Homo sapiens: one gene and its partners. The protein of the gene in region 1 interacts with the protein of each later gene in a pairwise test. Each region holds a gene or a part of one and is shown in the gene's direction. Other genes may lie near its edges. The genes, in order: IRAK4, ZNF597 and IL36RN.

Evidence for each region.
Region 2: the proteins of IRAK4 (region 1) and ZNF597 interact in binary tests that used the Homo sapiens proteins (3 or more experiments, as listed by UniProt).
Region 3: the proteins of IRAK4 (region 1) and IL36RN interact in binary tests that used the Homo sapiens proteins (3 or more experiments, as listed by UniProt).

Annotation. Positions count from the first base shown.
Region 1 is NC_000012.12:43,754,102-43,762,040, forward strand, and holds the start of IRAK4 (interleukin-1 receptor-associated kinase 4), read left to right. Parts: upstream 1-4,849; 5' UTR 4,850-4,915; exon of another isoform or gene 4,916-5,885; intron 5,886-6,823; exon of another isoform or gene 6,824-6,871; intron 6,872-7,939. Other genes in the region: pseudouridylate synthase PUS7L, read right to left, coding at 235-1,160, 4,592-4,602.
Region 2 is NC_000016.10:3,440,446-3,447,365, reverse strand, and holds the start of ZNF597 (zinc finger protein 597), read left to right. Parts: upstream 1-3,861; 5' UTR 3,862-4,006; intron 4,007-4,159; 5' UTR 4,160-4,212; coding exon 4,213-4,245; intron 4,246-6,432; coding exon 6,433-6,559; intron 6,560-6,920. Other genes in the region: NAA60 (N-alpha-acetyltransferase 60), read right to left, coding at 3,539-3,599. UniProt on the Homo sapiens protein: May be involved in transcriptional regulation.
Region 3 is NC_000002.12:113,054,846-113,062,207, forward strand, and holds the start of IL36RN (interleukin-36 receptor antagonist protein), read left to right. Parts: upstream 1-4,352; 5' UTR 4,353-4,396; intron 4,397-4,566; 5' UTR 4,567-4,593; coding exon 4,594-4,622; intron 4,623-6,006; coding exon 6,007-6,092; intron 6,093-7,278; coding exon 7,279-7,362. UniProt on the Homo sapiens protein: Inhibits the activity of interleukin-36 (IL36A,IL36B and IL36G) by binding to receptor IL1RL2 and preventing its association with the coreceptor IL1RAP for signaling.

The DNA of each region.
Region 1 (7,939 bases):
GTAAGGCTAATTTTTAAATTCAGTGTAATTTAAAAGGTTTTATCATCTTCTAGTAAGTAACAGAATAAATAAGAATTCCTAGAGTTGCTTAAATTGCTTATCAGCAATTCCTCTCCCTAAAGGTAAATCATATATTCTTTCCAATCTCTCTAGCCAAGTCTGTTCAATTCATTTTCACAATTTTAAATTTAGCTAAGCTTATCCAAGAAAATGGATGATGATTTATTAAATTACCTGTATATATAACTTTTCCTTCTTGGCATTCAGAAAGAGGCCTTTTCCCACGTTTGTGTGCTTTTTCCCGAAATCTTACTGTTACCACCACATTCGGATTACCAGCACTGCAATTCATTTTAGAAAAAGATTTGGTTTCCACAAGGTTTCCAAACTTTTTGTTGACAAAATGGTGGACAGCTTTTCTGTGGTCTTTGTTTGTATCAGGTTTAAAGGTAAATTTGGAATTTTCTTTCTTTGCATCCAAATATTTAAAAAAGTCAAATGCTTCCTCTTCAGATACCAAATGACAAAGTTCTTTATATTCAAGATTTGGTTTTACAACAATTTCACTGTTTTTTCCTACAGTTACTAAAAATGGAAATTTCTGCCTAATGGCACTGTGTAAACTAGCCCTCTGGTTTTTGTCAAGGATTCTGCCTATTGAGAATTCAGGAGGTAGTCCAATTAGCTCTGTTTTAGAAAGCCACTTCTCTCTTACATCACAGGCAAAATTATTCAGTAACTCATGAGTTTTTTCATCCAAAAAGGAGCTTAAAACATCAGCTTTTTCTTCACATTTGGAAGTTCCATCAACGATAGTATCTTCCTTTTCTGAACCAGACTGATGATTTTGGTCACCATCAGTGTACTTAATCAAAGTATGAACTTCTTGGTTTCTTCCATCTTCTAAGGACAGATTTTGAAGATCTAGTTTTGGTTTTTTGGGAAAATTATTTGGCTCAAGTTGTATTTCACTAATCTTGAAAATAGGCTCATCGATGGTCTTATTAACTAACTGTCCCTGTTCATCAATTTCAATAACAATAAAGTCACTTGGTGAGCTTTTTATAGTGCCATGAAATCCAACGTGATCATTAAAGAAACACAAAGAACTAAACCTGATTCTATAATCTGTATCTTCTTCCATTCTTCTATAACAGTGCCTAGAAAACAAAACAAAGAGGTGGTTAGTTAACAGAAAGAGAAGTTATGGATGACCAAATAGGAATAGGTTTGCAGGATTTAGTTAATTCTGTCTCTCTTTTAATTCTGAGTCTTCTTAAATGGTATCATTAACTTAATTTATAACTATATGTACTTCCTGTGTACTTTGACTCTCCTATACCAAGCTGAATTAATAGGCAAACTATTTCTGGTATAGCTAAAGATTTGTTAACTTGTATCTTCACTCACTCCAGATTTGTACCTATTATCCAGGATTAAAATGAGTCAATTTTATCTTAAAAATATCATTTGTAGGCTCACAAGAAGAGGTGAGAACACAGGACTATAAAACAAAGATTTGTCCAAATTCCATTCCTGGAGCCTAAAATTTCCAGCTAATTCCAGAGAACATGTGGCTAAGTTTTCTTATATTATTAGTGGTTAGTGACAGGAGAGGTGACAAAAAGACAATAGGAAAACTGATGGGTAAATGAAGTTCTAAATACAAATTTGTGATTTGATTATATTTCAAGGTAGGATTAAGTCAGTCCTGGGCCTTCTCTAATGCCCCCATTAGGACAAATAGAAGCTTTCAAGGTTGAGCCAGAGGAAAGTTCTAACTATATCATTGGCATCAGACAGAAGAAACCCTTACAGAGCTTCCTGGAAACACTATGCAAGAGAATAGTACTCTGATCTCTCACTTTTCACACAAACCCATGGCTACCATACCATATGGAGCTGCAGGAAAGATAAATTGCCCAGGGGCCCCATACTAGTGAGTTCTGTGTTTCCCCCACATTCTCCAAGTAACTTATCATCATCTGGACCATCATCTCATACCTATAATGTATTCTACTAATCTGAACCAATTTAGCAAATCACACCTTCTCAATCCTTTCCATCATGCCATATAGAAATCACTACAAATTCTCCATATCCTAATTTCCTAAGGAATATATAAGATATACTTACTTTCCTTAATTACTTAATTTCCTGTACAGTTCCCTCACTTTCTTGCCCTAATTGAAATCTGGCTATTTCTTCAGGCTGCTTCTTCTTCAGTCCTCTCAAGTAAAGGCTATTTTTTCTTTCCCACCCATCTACCTTAGGACCTGGAGGCTGTAAATATTGGTCTATGTTTGTCACTGTTCGTTGCAAGCCATTTCTTCCTCTACTACCTCCAAAAACCCCAATTCTTTTGAAGAGCCTGCCATTGGGCTTTACCATCTGCTGTCATCCTCTCTCGGATCCCCAGACAACTCTGCTTCATTCACTGATCTCTGGCTCACTACCTTCTTATCCAACATGATTTTTATGATCATCTATATGGATCATCCATTCAATGTCTTGGACCCTCAAGTCCTCAATCTCAACCTCAACCTCACACCTCTACTTCATCTTGGTCATCCACTGTCACGGTCATAACTTTGACTTTCTCATCTCCAAAAACTGCATTAACCTTAAGCATCTGATTCTTATGACTCCCAATGTCCTTTATCACACCAACTTTAATACTTCCATTCCAAAAACTTTTAGATATTGTGAAGGTCCCTAACTCCTGCTTCTATAACTAGCCCACAAACCAGCCAGAATGGTCTTAAAAGGTAAATTAAATCATATCACAATCCAGTTTAAAACCCTCTAGTCACATTTGCAATAAAATCCAAATTACTCACCCTGGCTTCCAAGGACATCTAAGATTAGGGACCCTGCTTATTCTCCAAACTCATTTGTACCTTTACCCCATTACCCACTATACTCCAGCTACTCTGGCCTTCTTCAATAGTTTTGTGCTAACTGTTCCTGTTGTTTAAATTGTTCCCTCCCCAATCATATAGCTGCATCTTTTAGGATTCATTTCCTCAGAGAAGTTTTTCCTGACCAATAATCTACAGGAACCTGCAAGTGATTCTCTTTTTTTTTGAGACGAAGTCTCACTCTGTCGTCCAGGCTGGAGTGCAGTGGCATGATCTCGGCTCACTGCAACCTCCGCCTCCCGAGTTCGAGCGATTCTCCTACTTCAGCCTCCCGAGTAGCTGGGACCACAGGGGCGCGCCACCACGCCCGGCTAATTCTTGTATTTTTTTAGTAGAGATGGGGTTTCACCATATTGGCCAGGGTGGTCTTGAACTCCTGACCTCGTGATCCACCCGCCTCGGCCTCCCAAAGTGCTGGGGTTACAGGCGTGAGCCACCGTGCCCAGCAAGTGATTCTCTTTCACAAAACCCTATTTAATTTTCTGCATAGCAGTTCTAGGTAAAGTTTTTCTTTATTATTTATTGTATATCTCCTCCAAAGAGAATGTTAGTTCCACGTGAGGAGTAACCTTGTCTGCCTTATTTACTACTGATGATCACACATTTTGAACAGTGTCAAGCACATGGTAGGTCTGCAATAAATACTATTGTTAAATAAATGAAATAACTAGTACAAAATAAGAGCTGTAGGAATGAAGTGGAAGATAATTAGAAGAGGCATAATGCAAGAAGTGGCCATCTAAGTCCTCCATAGTTCAAGAGATAGAAATGAGGCAGAGACCTCACAAGTAATGTACAAACAAAACATGCAATGTGTGCAAGAAAAACAAGCAGTCCAGATACAGAGCAGTGGGGATGGGAATGCAGGGAGACTACAGTGCTGGAAAATGTAGCTGAGTTAGTACCAGATTATGGAAGATGTTGAATGCCCTGACAAGGACTTAGAATCTATTGGGTGGTCAATGGATGGCTACTGTTAGTGTTTGAGTAGAAAAGTGACACAATTCCAAAACATGCTTTTGGAATTGTAAGATGATTCTGATGGAAATGAGCAAGATGTATCCGATGGAGTAACAGTTAGAGGAGTTCAAAAACAAAACAGCATGGTCAAGAACATAGCTGTAGGGATTGGCCCTGAAAGAATAATGATCTTTTCTTTCTCCCAGAAAAAAGGAGGAAGACAGACATTCTAAGCAAGTGAAACAGGTAGGGAAACTTGGGGAGAATGTAATTCCAGCATCCTGGTAGAAGAGTGGAACTGACCTGGAGGACAGCAAAGGAGCCCACGTGGCGTTAAGCCTGAAGGTGCAGTATTCCCATTCAACAGAGACTGCTGCTGACAGTGGGCGGGGGAGTAGTTTGCTTGGCCCGTGGTTGAGGAATTCGTTGGCGGAGGAGGGATCCTGAGAAGGTACTAGAAATACTGAACCCAGTCCTGCAGAAGCTACTTAACTTCACAGAAAACTAGGGCGTCGTTGCCCTCCAGCACGTCCAAAGGTGTCCCCGACAAGGCCAGCAGCTCTACCTGTTTCTTCTCCCTCCTCTTACTCTGCCTGTCCAAAGGCACGACACTAGTCCACGTCACCTTTCTTTGGGCGCAAAGGGTATGGATCCTCAATGCCAACCTCGTCACCCCCCCCCCCCACACACACACACACACACACACATACAAGCCCACCATCGCGCAAGAAACTCGACCCCGTCTACCTCGGTTCAGTGGAAGGCATTCATTTGCACAACGCTGTGCGCATGCCCGGAAGCCTTAAGTGTTTCAGCCTCCGACAGGGGCGTAATTAAAGGGGCAGGCGCCCACGTAAAGACGCGCCCTACGCAATACGTGGAGTTTCTCACTTTGTGGAGCCGCCTGGAGGCGCCAAGATGAAGCCCATCGGGGAAGTGGGGCGGGGCCAACCCGGCAGGCCCCGCCCCTTCGCGGCGCTTCCTAGTTCGGCTGGTTCTTCTGTCGCCGGCTTCAGCAGCCCGCGCCCGGGCAGGTAAGGCATTCCCCGCCTTAATGCCTCGGTCAAACGTCGTCCGAGGTCCGCTTCCAGGCCTCGGCACCTCTGCCCCAGGGTTGCTGGGGTCGGCTGCGGAACGGAAATCTCTTTATCATCCGTGAGAAAAGTTAGAGAGGAAGTGGGTTCCTTTGACAGAGCTTACTCCAGAAGAAAGACTTGGGTAGGTCCCCGGTAATCAAGAAGTTCGTCGGCCCTGAGGAAGAGCCTGAGGCTTGGAGGGACGTCACCCAGCTGTTCTGGGGCGCAGTCGGACCTCAAGTTTCTCACCTCTCAGGCCCTGGATTCCGTGAACCCGACTGCGAAATGAAGTCTCTTTTCCCCAGAACCAGGAAGTCAGGCCAGCACCTGACAGATGCCTGTGGCGCCAGCAGCTCGCTGAGCCTCCACACGATTGTAATTCGCTTGTTTCTCCGGCCTCCAAGCTTCCAGGGAATTAGAAAGTGGAGGCGGCTTATGGGATCAGATGAGTACATTCGCAGATGGGGGAAAAAAGTGTACCTGTCAGCTTGGAAGCCAGAGGGAGACAAAGGGATAAAAGCAAACCCTGTCCAGGTGCGGTGGCTCATGCTTGTAATCCCAGCACTTTGGGAGGCCCAGGCGGGCGGATCGCTTGAGGTCAGGAGTTCGAGACCAGCCTGGCCAACATGGTGAAACCCCTGTCTCTACTAAGATACAAAATTTAGCTGGCATAGTGGCGGGCGCCCGTAATGCCAGCTACTCCGGGGGCTGAGGCAGGAGAATCGCTTGAACCCAGGAGGCAGAGGTTGCAGTGAGCCGAGATCGTGCCACTACACTCCAGCCTGGGCAACAGAGGGAGACTCCGTCTCAAAAGAAAAAAAAAAAAAAAAAAGCAAACCCTGAGAAAGCGAGAAAGCACTTTGAGCATTTAGAATGGGAACAAACGGCGCTATTAGTGCTTCAAAAACGTAACTGCCCAAGGCCCCTGGTAAGCAGAGGATACTAAAATCTGCCTTTTCCCTTTCTTGGAGTGGTCCTTGAAGAGGGCTATCGGGAAGTTCAAATTTCTTCTGTTTTCCTGCAGAGCGTTCATTTGAAGTTTGCTTTCTACCTCTCCAAACTGAGCTTCTGATATTCCAGGCCAAACTTGCTCCTTCCTCAGCCTTCTCTATCTCAGTAAATATCGGTAAACTTGGTTATGCTGTCTTCTCACTCTCCACATCAGCCCATAGCTTTCTATTGGCTCCACCTCAGAATCCTAGGACTTCTGCACTTGCTCTGCTACGACCCTGGTCCCAGCCTGCAGCACGTCCCACCTGGCTTATTGGTAGGCTCTCCTAAATGCTTCTTTCTTGCTTCTCTGTCCTTACTCCAACATCCTTTATTCCCAGCAGCCCCAGTATCCTTCTAAGACATGAGTACAGAGCATGTCTCTTTTCTCAAAACTTCCAGCATCTACATCTCACCCAGAGGATAAACAAAGTCAATACAAAAACTCTAAGGCCCTTGAAGACCTGGCCCCTTTACCTTTCTGACCTCATCTGCTACTTGCCTGTTCCCTCCTCTGCAGTCTCACCATGTCCTTGCTGTTGCCCAGTGGGCCCAGTTCCAACCTTTGCATTTACATTTCGTTTTGTCCACAAACTTTTCCCACAGATAGTCCAGTGGCTGGCTTTCTCCTTCTTTTTGACCTTTAATCAAATGGCACCTTCTTATTGAGGCTTCCTGTGACTACCATATTTATAATTACAACCTTTTCTCTATTTCGTTTTGTTCTTTCATTTCACTTGGCACCATCTAACATACTATAGAGTTTATTTATTTGCTTATTGCCTTCCTTCCTCCATTAGAATATAAACTCCATGAATTCAGGTTTTGGTTTTGTTTTGTTTTTTTTCTCTAATTTTCCTAATGCTTCATCTCCAGGGGCCTGGAGCAGTATCTAGCACAAAGTAGACACTCAGTAAATATTTGGTGAGTCAATGGTATTATATTTTGTTTTTTAAATATATGCAAAGCATTTTCAATTACTTACTGTTGTGTTGGATCAATGTTCAAGAAAGATATGTTAAGTTTAATTTATGGTACACCAGCACATATCCCAGTTTGTAATAGGCAGCCCTATCTAATTTAATAGCTCTGGAAGCCCTCACCAGCTTTTGTTCATAATGATGATGTTAAAGTATCTAAAAATAAAGATTAATGGTTATACAGCATATTTTGCTAAGAATATATGGAAGTAAATAGTGTATTTTAGAAAGGATATAAATACATTAAAATTACCATGGTTGATCAAATAAGACAGCCACCATCTCAAAAGCTTAGCTATTTTCTCAGACTTGTTATTTGTACGCTTTCAGTAGATCCTCACTACTGTTCTGGAAATTGAACCTAAATACAGTCTGCACATATCTTTAAAAATAATGTGATATAAGAATAATTTCTGCCAGGAAATAATAATTGCTCCTTTTTTTTTTTGACCACCTATTATTATGTGACAAGATTTGGCCCTTTGCATGTGTTGATTTTAATTCTTACAGCAATTCTTAGGTATTACTATCTCTGTTTTTCAGATAAAGAAAAGCAAGGTGCAGAGAAATGTATTTACTAGCTCTGGTCACAGTTGGCTTTGGTTAGAACTTAGGCCTGTGCAACCTCAAAGTTCATCTTCCCTCCACCCCTGCACAATCTTTTCCTCTGATCAAAGTGCTAATGAAGCAGTCTTAAAACTTTATTAACACATTTGACAAGAATCTTTTGCCCTCCTGTTTTGGGCACAGTACTTTGGGAAGGCATTGGATTCCATAAGCAGGTGCTTATTTTAATATATTTCTCAATCACCACCCCACCTTTTACACTTGTCTGAATTGTCTTACTTGAAAATATGAATGGGTTTTCTTTACTATGAGAGTTAGTGGTATGAGGAAACAGTCATGAAGGTATTTACTTATTTGTAAGCAACATATCCTGTTCCACCTGTGTTAATCCTAAGTGTACTAAAGTAAATCTTGAAGAATTTGAAAGAGATGACACTTTTTAAGT
Region 2 (6,920 bases), on another chromosome or scaffold:
CAAAATATTTCATGTACCACATAAATATATACACCTACTATGTACCCATAAAAATTAAAAATATAACTACCACTACCATTTTAACGCATAGTCTTCAAAAGCAACTTTGTTATTGTTTTTGTTTCATAACCAATTTTACTCCCAAAAATGAGTATCTTTCCGTTTCAATATACAGCTGCATCATCATAAAAATCACTAGGGAAAAGATATATACTTAAGAATAGGGGCCGGGGGCAGGGGCTCACGCCTGTAATCCCAGCACTTTGGGAGGCCAAGGCGGGCAGATCACAAGGTCAGGAGTTCGAGACCAGCCTGGCCAATATGGGGAAAACCCGTCCTCTACTAAAAATACAAAAATTCGCCAGGTGTGGTGGTACGCACCTATAGTCCCAGCTACTCGGGAGGCTGAGCCAGAAGAATTGCTTGAACCTGGGAGATGGAGGTTGCAGTGAGCAGGCCAGGTGCGGTGGCTCATACCTGTAATCCCAGCACTTTGGGAGGCTGACATGGGCGGATCACTTGAGGCCAGGAGTTTGAGACCAGCCTGGCCAACATGGCAAAACTGCATCTCTACTAAAAATACAAAAATTAAATGGTTGTGGTGGCATCTGCCCATCATCTCATCTACTCTGGTAGCTGAGGCACAAGAATCACTTGAACCCAGGAGGCGGAAGTTGCAGTGAGCAGAGATCGCACCACTGCTCTCCAGCCTGGGCAACAGTGAGACTGTCTCAAAAAAAAAAAAACAAATAATAAAGAGTAAATAGTGGTGATCTCTGGGTGACAGGAATGTGTTGCCATTTTTTCCCCTGTATTTTCTTTTTTTTTTTTTTTTCAGACAGAGTCTCACTCTGTCACCCAGGCTGGAGTGCAGTGGTGTGATCTCGGCTCACTGCAAGCTCCGCCTCCCAGGTTCACGCCATTCTCCTGCCTCAGCCTCCCGAGTAGCTGGGACTACAGGTGCCCGCTACCACGCCTGGCTAATTTTTTGTATTTTTAGTATAGATGGGGTTTCATCGTGTTAGCCAGGATGGTCTCGATCTCCTGACCTTGTGATCTGCCCACCTCAGCCTCACAAAATGCTGGGATTACAGGCGTGAGCCACCGCACCCAGCCTTTCCTAACTTTCTGAAATGCACATATACTACTTTTGTAATGATGTTAGTTTTACTATTTTTAAAAAGATAATTTTCAGAGAAAGCAGATGCTGGGCTATAGAAATAATTTCAATACAAACAGGTTGTAGTTGTTATTACTGGTACCATGTTAAAGACAGAAATGGAAAAACTTGCAAAAGATTGTCGTGGAAGGATTTTTAAATTTTGATGATTAAAACATGTTACTTGAACATATAGTGGGTATACAGTCAAGCATTTGTGATTTTTTACAAAATTGAGTTAGGGATATAATGTGGTCTAATTTTTCAATCTTGGTCTATCTTGGACTTTGTATGTCATCTCTTTATTTTCAGGAAGATAAAGCTTTCAAGCTTCCTCCTTCTTTGTCCACTTGTTTATAGTTTTGATGGCTCTTAGGAAAGATAGTCTAGGGAAGATTTTTTCCTCTCCCATTTCAGGTATATCCCTCTCTCTCTGGTAATCCACTGAGTTAATACCACATGCTTCATTTCAAAGCATTGGAAACTGTGTTTATTTCTTTGTAATTATGGCAACAGGATTTAAAGAAGAGAGCCACGGGAGTCTCTTGTTCTTGGTGAAAGAGCCACAAATCCAGATAAGGAGAATCTCAGACCACAATGAGACAGTGCTGATGTAAGAATAGCATTAAATAGGCGGGGCGCGGTGGCTCACGCTTGTAATCCCAGCACTTTGGGAAGCCGAGGTGGATCATGAGGTCACGAGATCGAGACCATCCTGGCCAACATGATGAAACCCCATCTCTACTAAAAATACAAAAAAAAAAAATTAGCCGGACGTGGTGGCGGGCACCTGTAGTCCCAGCTACTCAGGAGGCTTAGGCAGGAGAATCATTTGAACCCCGGAGGCAGAGGTTGCAGTGAGTCAGGATTGTGCCACTGCACCCCAGTCTGGCTACAGAGTGAGACTGTCTCAAAAAAAAAAAAAAAAAAGAGATAAGCACAAACCAAGAAGGGAAAGATGACTACGTGAACACCACAGTGACTCAACCATGAACATCTCCTTTACTTACACCTTCATATACAGGCTATTAGCTCTTCTTCAACATATATGCTTTGGACTGGTCTAGCCTGTAGGCAAGTTTGTTCTTACCATTCTTCCACCTGTCCTGGAAGCACCTTTACTGGGACTTCACAGCTACCTCTTTTGTGATCCATCCCCACAAGGTCTAGCTCTTAGTTAGCTGTCAAGAGATATCATTTGTGGCAGATACTGCTAGTTTCTTATCTAACTTATTTTCCACATCTCTTTTTTTCATTTGTAACAAAGCCCTAATTTTGTGCAGGTAGATTATCAAGGGAGGCTAGGTCCTTCCCCTAGTGACAGGGGCTGAAGCATGATGGGCCCCAAACAATTATTTATTCTTGGTAATAACTAGTTTAGGATGGGTACATGACACAATACATGTCTGTATATTTTACCTGGATTCTATTGTCAACGTTACCAACATGCTTAGGGTGGCAGAGAAGCACTGGGACCTTGATGTTGTCACTGGGCCACCGAATTAACCAACCTGTAACTGCTCTTTGAACATCCTTTCGGTGGGTTTTCTGTTACTTGTAGCTGAAACTATCCTATCAGATATTCCACAAAATCACATTACCTAAGTTGTCAAATCTCCTAATATTGTTTTAATAACCATGCAGCCATTCATTAAGCTTTTAGATACAGGAATGTGCCTGGCACTGGAATAAGGAAATATGTTGAGACTTTTCAGGCTTTTCTATCAAGGTACCTATCATTTTCGTCTTTTTTTTTCCCCAAACACCTTTATAAACTGGCAATTTCTTTCACTTACATTATCTTATAATCTTTGAAATTACCCTCTGAGTTAGCCCAGAGAGGCACTCTGAGCTGTTTGCAGCTGAGGAAAGCAAAGTTGTAAACTGGCCAAGATTACCAACCAATCAGTGGCAGAGCTTGGGGAGGAGCTCAATTTTCCAATTCCAAATGCCTACACCAGGGCACTCCCTCCTCCCCCAGCACACAATAGGAAATGACTGGCTCTAGGGTAGGCTGCATGTGAGGTATCCGGGGGCGAACAACGTCCTGCGACGCTAACCTATGGCTCTATTCTCGCGTGGGATCCTGTGACTAGGAAGCTGAAGCAGCTCGCTTAGGCTGCAGCTGCGGGTACAATACGTAATGCCTCTATAACACTTTGAGTCAGAGTCCAGCAACCTGGCCTACACCGATGTGAACGTTGTGAACGTACACAAAGATACTCCTTCATGTTCCACGGCCCCACCATCCGCTCAAGACACAAAGGACAGCTCAAGCCCAGGCTAGGCCCGAACCCCCGCCCTCTCAATCACCTTGCTCTGGCCAGACCGAAATTTCAGGCCTACAGGGCACTGTTGGCCGAACCCACATTTTGTTACCGATTTTCTTTCGAGTTCCGGTGTCTCCCAGTCTTCTTTCTGTCCTTCTTCTCGGAAACATTACGTCCCCCTGGGGTCACCCTAAGACTCTACTTCAGCAGGCAAACAGGCCCGGAGCTCACGGAGGAGACCCCGCCAGCGGAAGCGGAAATGGTTGCTTAGAGAAAAGGAGGAAAACTACCTCTCGCAGCTGCCCAGTGGCTACAGGTCCTCGGTTAAGGTGTTCAATTGGTCAACACAAAAGAAGGACTTCCCCTTCGGGAGAACTTCGACCAATCAAAGGGCAGGATGGCGGAGAGGGCTGAGGGCGGGTCGCTTCCGGCGGCTTTTCCCGCAGCTCCTGCGTAAAGGAGCATGAGAGCGTGGGAGTTTTGCAGTGGCCGTGGCGTTCTTCGTCGCGTCTCGGTCGGGCGTCGCTTTCTGCAGCTCCTGTCAGGGAGCGCGAGGCCTGTTATTAACCGCGGAGCGGTAAGTGGGCCCCTTTCGAGGCCGGGCCAAGAGGAGGAGCAGTCGGCGTAGGTTTTTAAGGGGGGGTTCGGAGGGAATCGAGGGAGGCTAGGGGTAGTGGAGGAACTTGGCAGCGGAATTGGTCCCTTTAAGAACTGTTCTCTCCCCCCGCAGCTTTGTCACGAAGTCCCTGTGGCGTCTTGAAGAAGGCATTCCCCACCCGCCAAATGGCGTCCATGCCCCCGACGCCCGAGGCCCAGGTGAGTCGAGGTACCTTTTTCGTCCAAGTTTATTGCTGCTTTCGGTCTCTGCCTGACCCCCTCCTTTGGAGGAGAGTTGGGCATGCCTGTTGTGGTAGGAGTGCTCCTGAGCCCCAAATAGCCCTTTGACCAAGTGTTCTTCGTTCCAAGACCACACACATAATGGTTTACCAACTTCCTTCTTTCAGAACTACCAACTGGGAGCAGGGACCTGTGGAGGAATCTCTGAGAGAGTTTCTCAATGTCTTATCTGTTTGTTTTGTTTTGTTTGGAGATAGGGTCTGGCCTTGTCGCTGGAGTGTTGCTTGTCTGGCTGGAGTGCAGTGCTGATATCATAGCTCCGTCTGGAACTCAGGGAATCCTTACGCCTCAGCCTCTCGAGTATCTGAGAGGCGCGCATACCACAGTGTCTGGCTACTTTTAAAAGTTCTTTTTTTTTTTTTTTTGATACAGAGTCTCGCTCTGTCGCCCAGGCTGGAGTGCAGTGGCGCGATCTCGGCTCACTGCAAGCTCCGCCTCCCGGGTTCATGCCATTCTCCTGCCTCAGCCTCCCGAGTAGATGGGACTACAGGCGCCTGCCGCCACGCCCTGCTAATTTTTTGTATTTTTAGTAGAGACGGGGTTTCACCGTGTTAGCCAGGATGGTCTCAATCTCCTGACCTTGTGATCCGCCCGCCTCGGTCTCCCAAAGTGCTGGAATTACAGGTGTGAGCCACTGCGCCCGGCCTAAAACTTCTTTATGGAGATGGAGTCTTGCTGCTTTGCCAAGGAACTCCTGGCCTTCAGCTATCCTCCCACCTCGGCTCCCCAAAGTGCTAGGATTAAAAGTGACTTTCTGGAATGGTTCCCAAAATTACAGATTTGGTACTTCTCCAATTTGAATGAATTTTTAAATTAAGCACATTTCTAGACTCCACACTCGTTGAGTAATAATAAATCCCAAGTGATTAATTTATCACACCGTTAGAGAAGGTGGGGTAGGCCTGGATGAAGTGCTGGAGTGAGCTTAGCAATGAGTGTCATGGGGACGAGAGGAAATAGCAAAGGGAAGGATGTTGGGAGAATCCTGTAACCTTTATCTCTTTATGATTCTTCCTGGGCTGCCCAACTTTCTCCTTTTCTTTTCTTTTTTTTTTTTTTTTTGAGACAGTCTCGCTGCGACGCCTAGGCTGGAGTGCAATGGCGCGATCTCGGCTCACTGCAATCTCTGCCTCCTGGATTCAAACGATTCTCCTGGCCCAGCCTCCCAAGTAGCTGGGACTACAGGCGCATGCCACCACATCTGGCTAATTTCATTTTATTTTAATTTATTTTTTGAGACAGAGTTTTTTTTGTTGTTGTTTTGTTTTTGTTTTTGTTTTTGAGATGGAGTGTCGCTCTGTTGCCCAGGCTGGAGTGCAGTGGCACGATCTCAGCTCACTGCAAGCTCTGCTTGAGACGGAGTTTTACTCTTGTTGCCCAGGCTGGAGTGCAATGGTGCAATCTCGGCTTACTGCAACCTCTTTCTCCTAGGTTCAAATGATTCTCCTGCCTCAGCCTCCCAAGTAGCTGGGATTATAGGCATGCGCCACCACACCTGGCTAATTTTTTGTATTTAGTGCAGACAGAATTTCACCATGTTGGTCAGGCTGGTCTTGAACTCCTGACCTCAGGTGATCCACTCGCCTCCACCTTCCAAAGTGCTGGGGTTACAGGCGTGAGCCACTGTGCCCAGCCTTAATTTTTGTAATTTTAGTAGAGACAGGGTTTCACCATATTGGCCAGGCTGGTCTCGAACACCTGACCTCAAGTCATCTGCATCCCCCTCAGACTCCCAAAGTGTTGGGATTACAGGCATGAGCCACCACACCCGGCCCCAAACCTCTCCTTTTCTTAGAGCATCCTCACTTAATGGTTGCCTCCCTAAGAGCCATTCCCTCATCTTTTCTCTTTCAAGATAGACAATAATTCTCACAGTCCACCGTCCTTGTACCACTGCCTAAAAATGTATGTCCATGTTTACTCTCTTCTTCCCAACCCTCACCCCACCCCTTAGAACCCATTTGCCCTACTTCTGCGCTCAAGAACCTTTTACACCGAGCCTTTTATCCCGTGCATCTGATGTTTCTAGCTCTTTTCATCCTTCCTAGGTTAAGTGAGGGGCTGACCCTCCACCCTCTTGTGCTGACACAGGCTCTTGTGTTTCAGGGACCAATACTCTTTGAGGATCTGGCTGTGTATTTTTCTCAAGAGGAGTGCGTGACTCTGCACCCTGCCCAGAGGTCCCTCAGCAAAGATGGTACAAAAGAGTCTTTGGAGGATGCGGCTTTGATGGGTAAGGCAATTGTTTTTCCTGCATCTGGAACTTTTGTCAATTCTAGGAGGAGAACTTCATGCTTTATCCAGATGTTGGTATGGTGGAGTGGGACCTGTCCCTCAGTAATTTATGTGGAGGTGATAATTGTGTGAGAGAAAAAGTTTTAAAATATGAGATGATTTTTTTTTTTTGAGACAGACTCTCGCTCTGTTGCCCAGGCTGGAGTGCAGTGGCACGATCTCTGCTCACTGCAAACCGCGCCTCCCAGGTTCACGCCATTCTCCTGCCTCAGCCTCCCGAGTAGCTGGGACTACAGCCGCCTGCCACCATGCCCAGCTAATTTTTTGTATTTTTAGTAGAGACAGGGTTTCACCGTGTT
Region 3 (7,362 bases), on another chromosome or scaffold:
CCATAGTCTTTGGAAGCTCCACTCCTGTGACTTTGCAGGGTACAACCCTCCTCCTGGCTGCTTTCATGGGCTGACACTGTCTGTGGCTTTTCCAGGCACACAGCATAAGCTGTTGGTGGATCTACCATTCTGGGATCTGGAGGACAGTGGCCCTCTTCTCACAGTTCCACTAGACAATGCCCCAGTGGGGACATTGTGTGGGGGCTCCCACCCCACATTTCCCTTCTGCACTGCCCTAGCAGAGGTTCTCCATGAGGGCTATGCCCATGCAGCACACCTCTGCTTGGACATTTAGACATTTCCAAACATCCTATGAAATCTAGGCGGAGGCTCCCAAACCTCAGTTCTTCACTTTTGTGCACCCACAGGCTCAACACCACATGGAAGCTGCCAAGGGTTGGGATTTACACCCTCTAAAGCCATGACCCAAGCTGTACCTTTGCCCTCTTTAGCCAAAGCTGGAGTGGCTGGGATGCAAGTCATCCCAAGTCCTGAGACTACACAAAGCTGCCAGGCCCTGGGTCTGGCCCATGAAACCATTTTTTCCTCCTGGACCTCCAGGTCTGTGATGGGAGGGGCTTCTGTGAAGACCTCTGATATGCCCTGGAGACACTTTCCCCATTTTCTTGGTGAAAAACATTTGGCTCCTCTTTCCTTATGCAAATTTCTGCAGCCAGCTCGAATTTCTCTTCAGAAAATAGGTTTTTCTTATCTCATCTTCATGCTGCATGTTTTCCAAACTTTTATGCTCTGCTTCCCTTTTAAATGTAGGTTCCAATTCCAAACCATATATTTGTGAATACATAAAACTGAATGTTATCAGCACCCAAATCACCTCTTGAATACTTTGCTGCTTAGAAATTTCTTTTGCCAGATGCCCTAAATCATCTCTTTCAAGTTCAAAGTTCCACAGATTTCTAGGTCAGGGGCAAAATGCTGCCAGTCTCTTTGCTAAAGCATAACAAGAGTCACCTTTGCTTCAGTTCCCAACAAGTTCCTCATCTCCATCTGAGACCACCTCAGCCTGGACCTTATTGTCCATATCACTATCAGCATTTTGGTCAAAGCTATTCAGTGAGTCTCCAGGAAGTTGCAAACTTTCCCACATCCTCCTATCTTCTTCTGAGCCCTCCAAACTGTTCCAACCTCTGCCTTTTACCCAGTTCCAAATTGCTGGGTAACAGGCAAAGTGTTAAAGTGCTGAAATGCCAATAGTGATGTCAAGGTGTGTTAGTTACCAATTGTTGTGTAACAAAGTATCAGCAAAGTTAGCAGCTTAAAACAAGAAAAAATTATTATTTAACAAAGGCTGAGAGTCAGGAATGAGAAAACTGGCTTGGCTGGAGGGTTTGGCTCAGGGTGTCTCATTAGGTTACAGGAAAGATGTCAGCCAGGGTTGCAGTCATCTGAAGGCTTGACTGGGGCTAGAGGATCTGCTTCTAAGATTGTGCATTCACAGACTGTTGGCAGGAAAAAATAGTTTCTCACCACGTGGGCCTCTCCATAGGGCTGCTTGAGTGTCCTTATCACATAGTGGCTGGCTTTGTCCAGGTGAGTGATCTAAGAGCTAGGAGGAAATTGCAATGCCTTTTATGATGCTGCCATGTTCATCATGTAACATAGCGCCCCACTCCCAGTATCAATTTACTATATCAGTCTGTTCTCATGCTGCTAATAACAACATAACCAAGACTGTGTAATTTATAAAGGAAAGAGGTTGAATTGACTTAGAGTTCCACATGGCTGGGGAGGCCTCACAATCATGGTGGAAGATGATGAAAGAAGAGCAAAGTCATGTCTTACATAGTGGCAGGCAGGAGAGCTTGTGTGGGGAAATTCCCCTGTATAAAACCATCAGATCTTGTGAGACTTATTCACTATCATGAGACCAGCACAAGAAAGACCTGCCCCCATGATTCAATTACCTCCCACTGGGTTCCTTCCATGACACGTGGGAATTATAGAAGCTACAATTCAAGATGAAATTTGGGTGGGAACAGAGCCAAACCATATCACCTTCTTAAAGATGAAGTTTCCAAGAATTTATGGACATATTTTAAAACAGCCACACATGGTTTGCGAATTGGCAGCATTGTCTTTAGGTAGTGCCAAAGTTTATTTTTCAGAAGTTCAAAACTTGACTCTCATACACACATATAGTGAGCATGTGTCAAAGATTTACTATTTTTCATAAGTGAGGGAATCAGCAAGATTATAAAGCTGATTATCAAAAGATAATTCAGGGAATGGAGGCTTATACCGTCAGTCAAGAAATAAAGGCTGAAATAGGTTGGCTAAGTTACGTTTTAAAGACAGCTTTATGACTTGTGAGGCAATAAAACTGCACCCTTTGGAGTTATCTTTTCTATCAGACAGGAATAATGTGTAATTTATCAATGTTCTCTTAGTTCATGGCTAATTTCACAGAGTCTGAGACCTAATTAGTAAGTCAAGCAAAGGGATAGGTCCAGAGAGAACTTATTGTTGGTGAGGCCTGTTTGATAATGTTTTCATATAATATTGACAGTATACACAGTCATAGTTTCATTTTACTTATTATTTATTTATTTATTGAGGCAGAGTCTAGCTCTCTCTGTCATCCAGGCTGGAGTACAGTGGCTCAATCTTGGCTCACTGCAACCTCCACCTCCCAGGTTCAAGCAATTCTCACACCTCAGCCTCCTGAGTAGCTTGGATTACAAATGTGCACCACCAACCCGGCTAATTTTTGTGTTTTCAGTAGAGATGGGGTTTTGCCACGTTGGCCAGGCTTGTCTCATTTCATCTTATTTCTACTGTCATTCCATTTGGTCAATTTGTAATTTAATAATTTTGTACAAGGCAGTTTCTACATTAATTTTATTTTTCTGAAAAGTGTCTATCATATTAGTGGCATTATGAAAATCGTAGATTATTTTCTGTGTTTTGAACAACTTGATATTTTATTTATTCTTGAACACTTGTAGGACCTCTTGGCTCATATGTCTGAATACCATTTCTTTAAAATGTACGCTTTAACATGTACACATATGTAACAAACCTGCACATTGTACACATGTATCCTAAAACTTAAAGTATAATAATAATAATAAAAGAAAAAAGAAAAATAAAACTTAAAAAAAAAGTGTATGCTTTAACAATAAATTATTAATAAATAGTTATCTGTGTTATTCAAGATATAATTAAATTGTTTTTTGTGCACTGACCCTTACCTTTATTTCAGATCCATCACAGAGAGTGCATGGAGGTATTTAAACTGCATTAACTGTTTCACAATTAAGTATTATCTTATCAATTAGGTATTCAAGAAAGATCACTTACAGAATTATAGATGGCATGAGCTAGATTTTACTTTCTAAAGAAATAACCAGATACATGAGCAAAGATGTTAATACAAAGATGTTTGTCACAACATGGTTTTCAATAGCAAAAAAAGAGAGAAAAATATATAAAAGACAAATAACAGTGGATAGGTTTCAATAAATAATGTTACAGTGATACAGTTAAATACTATACAGCTATTGAAGCATGTCATTATTCATATTTAGTATGGAAAGATATTTTGCTATTTTGCCACATGAAAAAATGAGGTTGGAAAAAGTATAGGTTTTGTGAATCTGTTGTATGAAAGCTGTCTATAGTTACATGTGTATGTGTGTGGAGGAAATAGTGTTGTCATTGGTTTTCTGATGATGCACTCAGAAAAGACAAGTATTCACATTTTTTCTTGTGGCTGATCTGGATTTTCAGGTTTTTCTACAATGAACATGTAGGCTGAACATTCCCTAAGCAGGAGAGTCCCACCTCTAACATCTCCTGTAGGCCTGGCAATGGCAGGCAGGAAAGACAGAGGAAGGAAGGAGGGAGAAGGGAAGGAGTGAAGGAAGGAGTGAAAAAGGTAAGGAAGAAAGGGAATAGGGGAGGAAGGGAGGAAATGGGAAGGGAAAGAAGGAAAGGAAGGAAAGAGGGAGGGAAGAAAGGAAGGGAAAAGGGAGGGAGTGAGTGAATGAAAGATGGAAAGAAGGAAGAAAGGGAGGGAGGCAGGGAGGAAAGAAAGTCGCGCTTCCCTTGAGCTGCCATGGGCACTGACTCTTAGGGTCTGAAAGCCCCTGAGATGCAAAAGCCTAGTGCTCACAAAGAGCTGGAAAGCCTCAAGGAAGTTCTTCAATATTTCTGGAAGGAAACTGTCTCCAGAAGCTTCCCTCCCCACGACAGATAATGAGCAGCAAGTGCTTCTGGCGACTTAGGGTGATGTGAAATCACGCTGGGAATCCTGCTCCTCCTCAGGTCCTGGCAGTTTCAGGGCCCCTCCCTAGGCCTTACTTAAAAGGCTGAGGCATCCTTGGAGGAACAGGCAGACTCCACAGCTCCCGCCAGGAGAAAGGAACATTCTGAGGTATGCTCTGGGGCGCTGGTGGTACCGGAGCTCTCTCCTGACCCCAGACCCAGAATCTGCTCCGTGGAGGCTGTTCACATGCTGGGGAGCTCGGTGCAGCTGCTTGCTCCCCAGACCCCAGCCAACTCAGCCTCTCTCTCCATGATTTTCTGTTGTTTATTCCAAAATAGGGGAGTCTACACCCTGTGGAGCTCAAGATGGTCCTGAGTGGGGCGCTGTGCTTCCGGTGAGTGTATGAGGCCCTGGTTTGGTGGTGTCCTCCGGAGGAAGTGAGTTCTGGATAGACCCGTTGTCCAGCTCTGAGCAGGAGGGAGGAAGGGAGGGGCTGCCATTGCAGCTGGGAAATTGTGACCAGCACCTCACTGCTCTTAGAGTTTTCCCAGCCTTTTTCAAATAGGGGCAGGACTGGGGCAGGCCATCTCACAAGGGGTCCCTGATGCTGAGGGGGATAAGTGAACCTCCCAGTCTAGAGCTCCAGCCAAGTCTATCCAAGGTGGGAACGGGGGCCAGGATCCCTGCTCAGAGCTCCGCCATTGTCCCCCATCACAGTGAATGGATGTAAGCTCACCCACTCTGTGCCCCTGCCTCCCTGCTACTCTTTGGGGATAATAATAAAACAAAAACCATTACCATCAGTCAGTCTGTCCACCCACTGGCATGTACCAAGCCAGACACTCTGCCGTGTTCTGGGCTTTACAACAGAGGATGAGAGTGGTCCTTTCTCTCAGTCTAATAAAGCACTTCCCATGATGTGTTCTATGGGACTCGATTAGAGGAGTCCCACAGAGGCATCCAGGAGATGCTTTACACAGTGGAGCTCTCTGATCAAGTAAATGCAGGGAATTCTGCTTTCTACATCCTCTCATAAGAGAACCACAGCCCAGCTCAGCATATGAGTGACTCTGAGGTTTTCTGAAGTAAGGCAACTTGTTGAATTGTATTTAGCCATGCATCGACCCAATTTTTACACTGCATCCTTTTCCCCCATATAACTTTTGGAGAAACCCACTTTAGGATACATCTTCCACCTCATAGGATGCCAGGAAATCAACTGAGTTCAAAGATGAGAAACAACTTTGAAAAGTTAAATAAAAGAAATTTAAATTTAAAGAAACTCCTCACTTAGTAAGGAATATATGACCAAATAGAAATACATGTATCTTGAAGAATTGAAGAATCAGGCTTTAACGTGGAAGAGGCCTGGATGTTATCCAACCCATCATCTTAGTGTAGCAATGGGGAGGCTCAGGCCCAGAGTGGGCGAGAGAGTTGTCTCCTGCGACTCAGCAGCATTGGAGGCAGAGATGGGGCAAGAACCTAGGGCTCTGACTCACCGTGCAGCTTCTCTTCCAGCAGGAGATGGGTTGGGGCAGAAAAGGTTGAATAGGGTGAAGGAGCAAACCACAGACTCCAGTGGGAGACTGTGGGGTCATCCTCCTTGTAGGGCATGAGCCCAGCAGGGCTGGGAGACAAGGCTGTGCTGTTACTTCTGGCACAGTAGGAAGAAAGAGAGACAAAATGCCTGAGATCAGGGGGTTCTCTGGATCCAGGGCATGCTGGAGTGTCCACCCTCCTCCTAATGTAGTCCTCACCCCTTCCTGATGTTTCAGAATGAAGGACTCGGCATTGAAGGTGCTTTATCTGCATAATAACCAGCTTCTAGCTGGAGGGCTGCATGCAGGGAAGGTCATTAAAGGTTGGTGATGAAACATGACCCACTTTCCTTGGTCTCTATACACTCTCAGGGGAGGGGGCCTGAAGAGGGCTTAGAATAGTCATACAGATTAGCATAGGCCTACAGAGCCCAGGCATTGGGGCAGCACAAACCAGGCTCTAAGCAAAGGCAAATAAAATACTACACCTCTCAGCAAAGTGAAGACACAGGCTCTGGGGCCACCTGAAGCTTCTATGCAGAAGTGGGAATGTTTTCCAAGAGGCTTGTCTTGTCATTCCCTTACAGGTAGATTTAGGTCAAGCATTGCATTCCCTGGGAGCCAGTAAGTACCAAGGAGAGAACTAACGTAGATTCTCTATACCTTTTTTCCCATATGGGAGTGGGTTTCTGCCTCTCCACCCTGGGTCCCCTCTGCTCTCTGAAGATCCTCAGTCACTTAGAGTGGAGGGACCCAGAGAACAGGTGGCATTGTTGGACCTCCTGCTTGCTCACTCTGCCCCATGCACTGCAACACGTCCCTCTCTAAAATAGTTTGCACCTGCCCACCTGGGGCACCCTTGCTGAGCACAGATGCCAGGTAGATCCTTCAGCTAGGCCATATGTGTATGTGTGTGCTTACTGGTGTATGTATGTGTGCATGCAGGCATATATGTGTGAGCATGTGTGCATGCATGTATCTGTGTGTAACCATGTATGTGTGAGTGCAGGTATGTAGGTATGAGCATGTGTGTGTATATGTATATGTGTGCATGCATGTATCTGTGTATGTATGTATCTGATGTATGTGGGTGGTGAGGGGATGTACAGAGAGGAATGAGACCCTCTTTTGCTCTCAGCAACATCACAGGGTGTAGAAAGTTGTCCAAACAATTCCAAAGGGGGGCTTATCAAGACAGGGTTCAGAAAAAGGCCTGAGACCCAAGGGACATTAAAGGAGGGGGTTGAATCTATTTTGGGGTGTAGAGGCTTGAAGATTTGACCCTGAACTAGAGGGTGGAGTGGAGGTGGTACAATGTGCTTCCATGCCTTGATGTCCACTCTGAGCCAGTGGACAGGAGAAGCCATGTCATGACAGCTGCTGAGAAGCCTCCCTTCTGCCCAGCCTGGGGGCAGGCCGTCTTACAGCAGTCCTGTGCCCTAGAGCCCAGGACAGGGGAAGAAGGAGGGAAAGGCATCCAGGGCCCTGCATCTGGCCTCTTTCCCACAGGTGAAGAGATCAGCGTGGTCCCCAATCGGTGGCTGGATGCCAGCCTGTCCCCCGTCATCCTGGGTGTCCAGGGTGGAAGCCAGT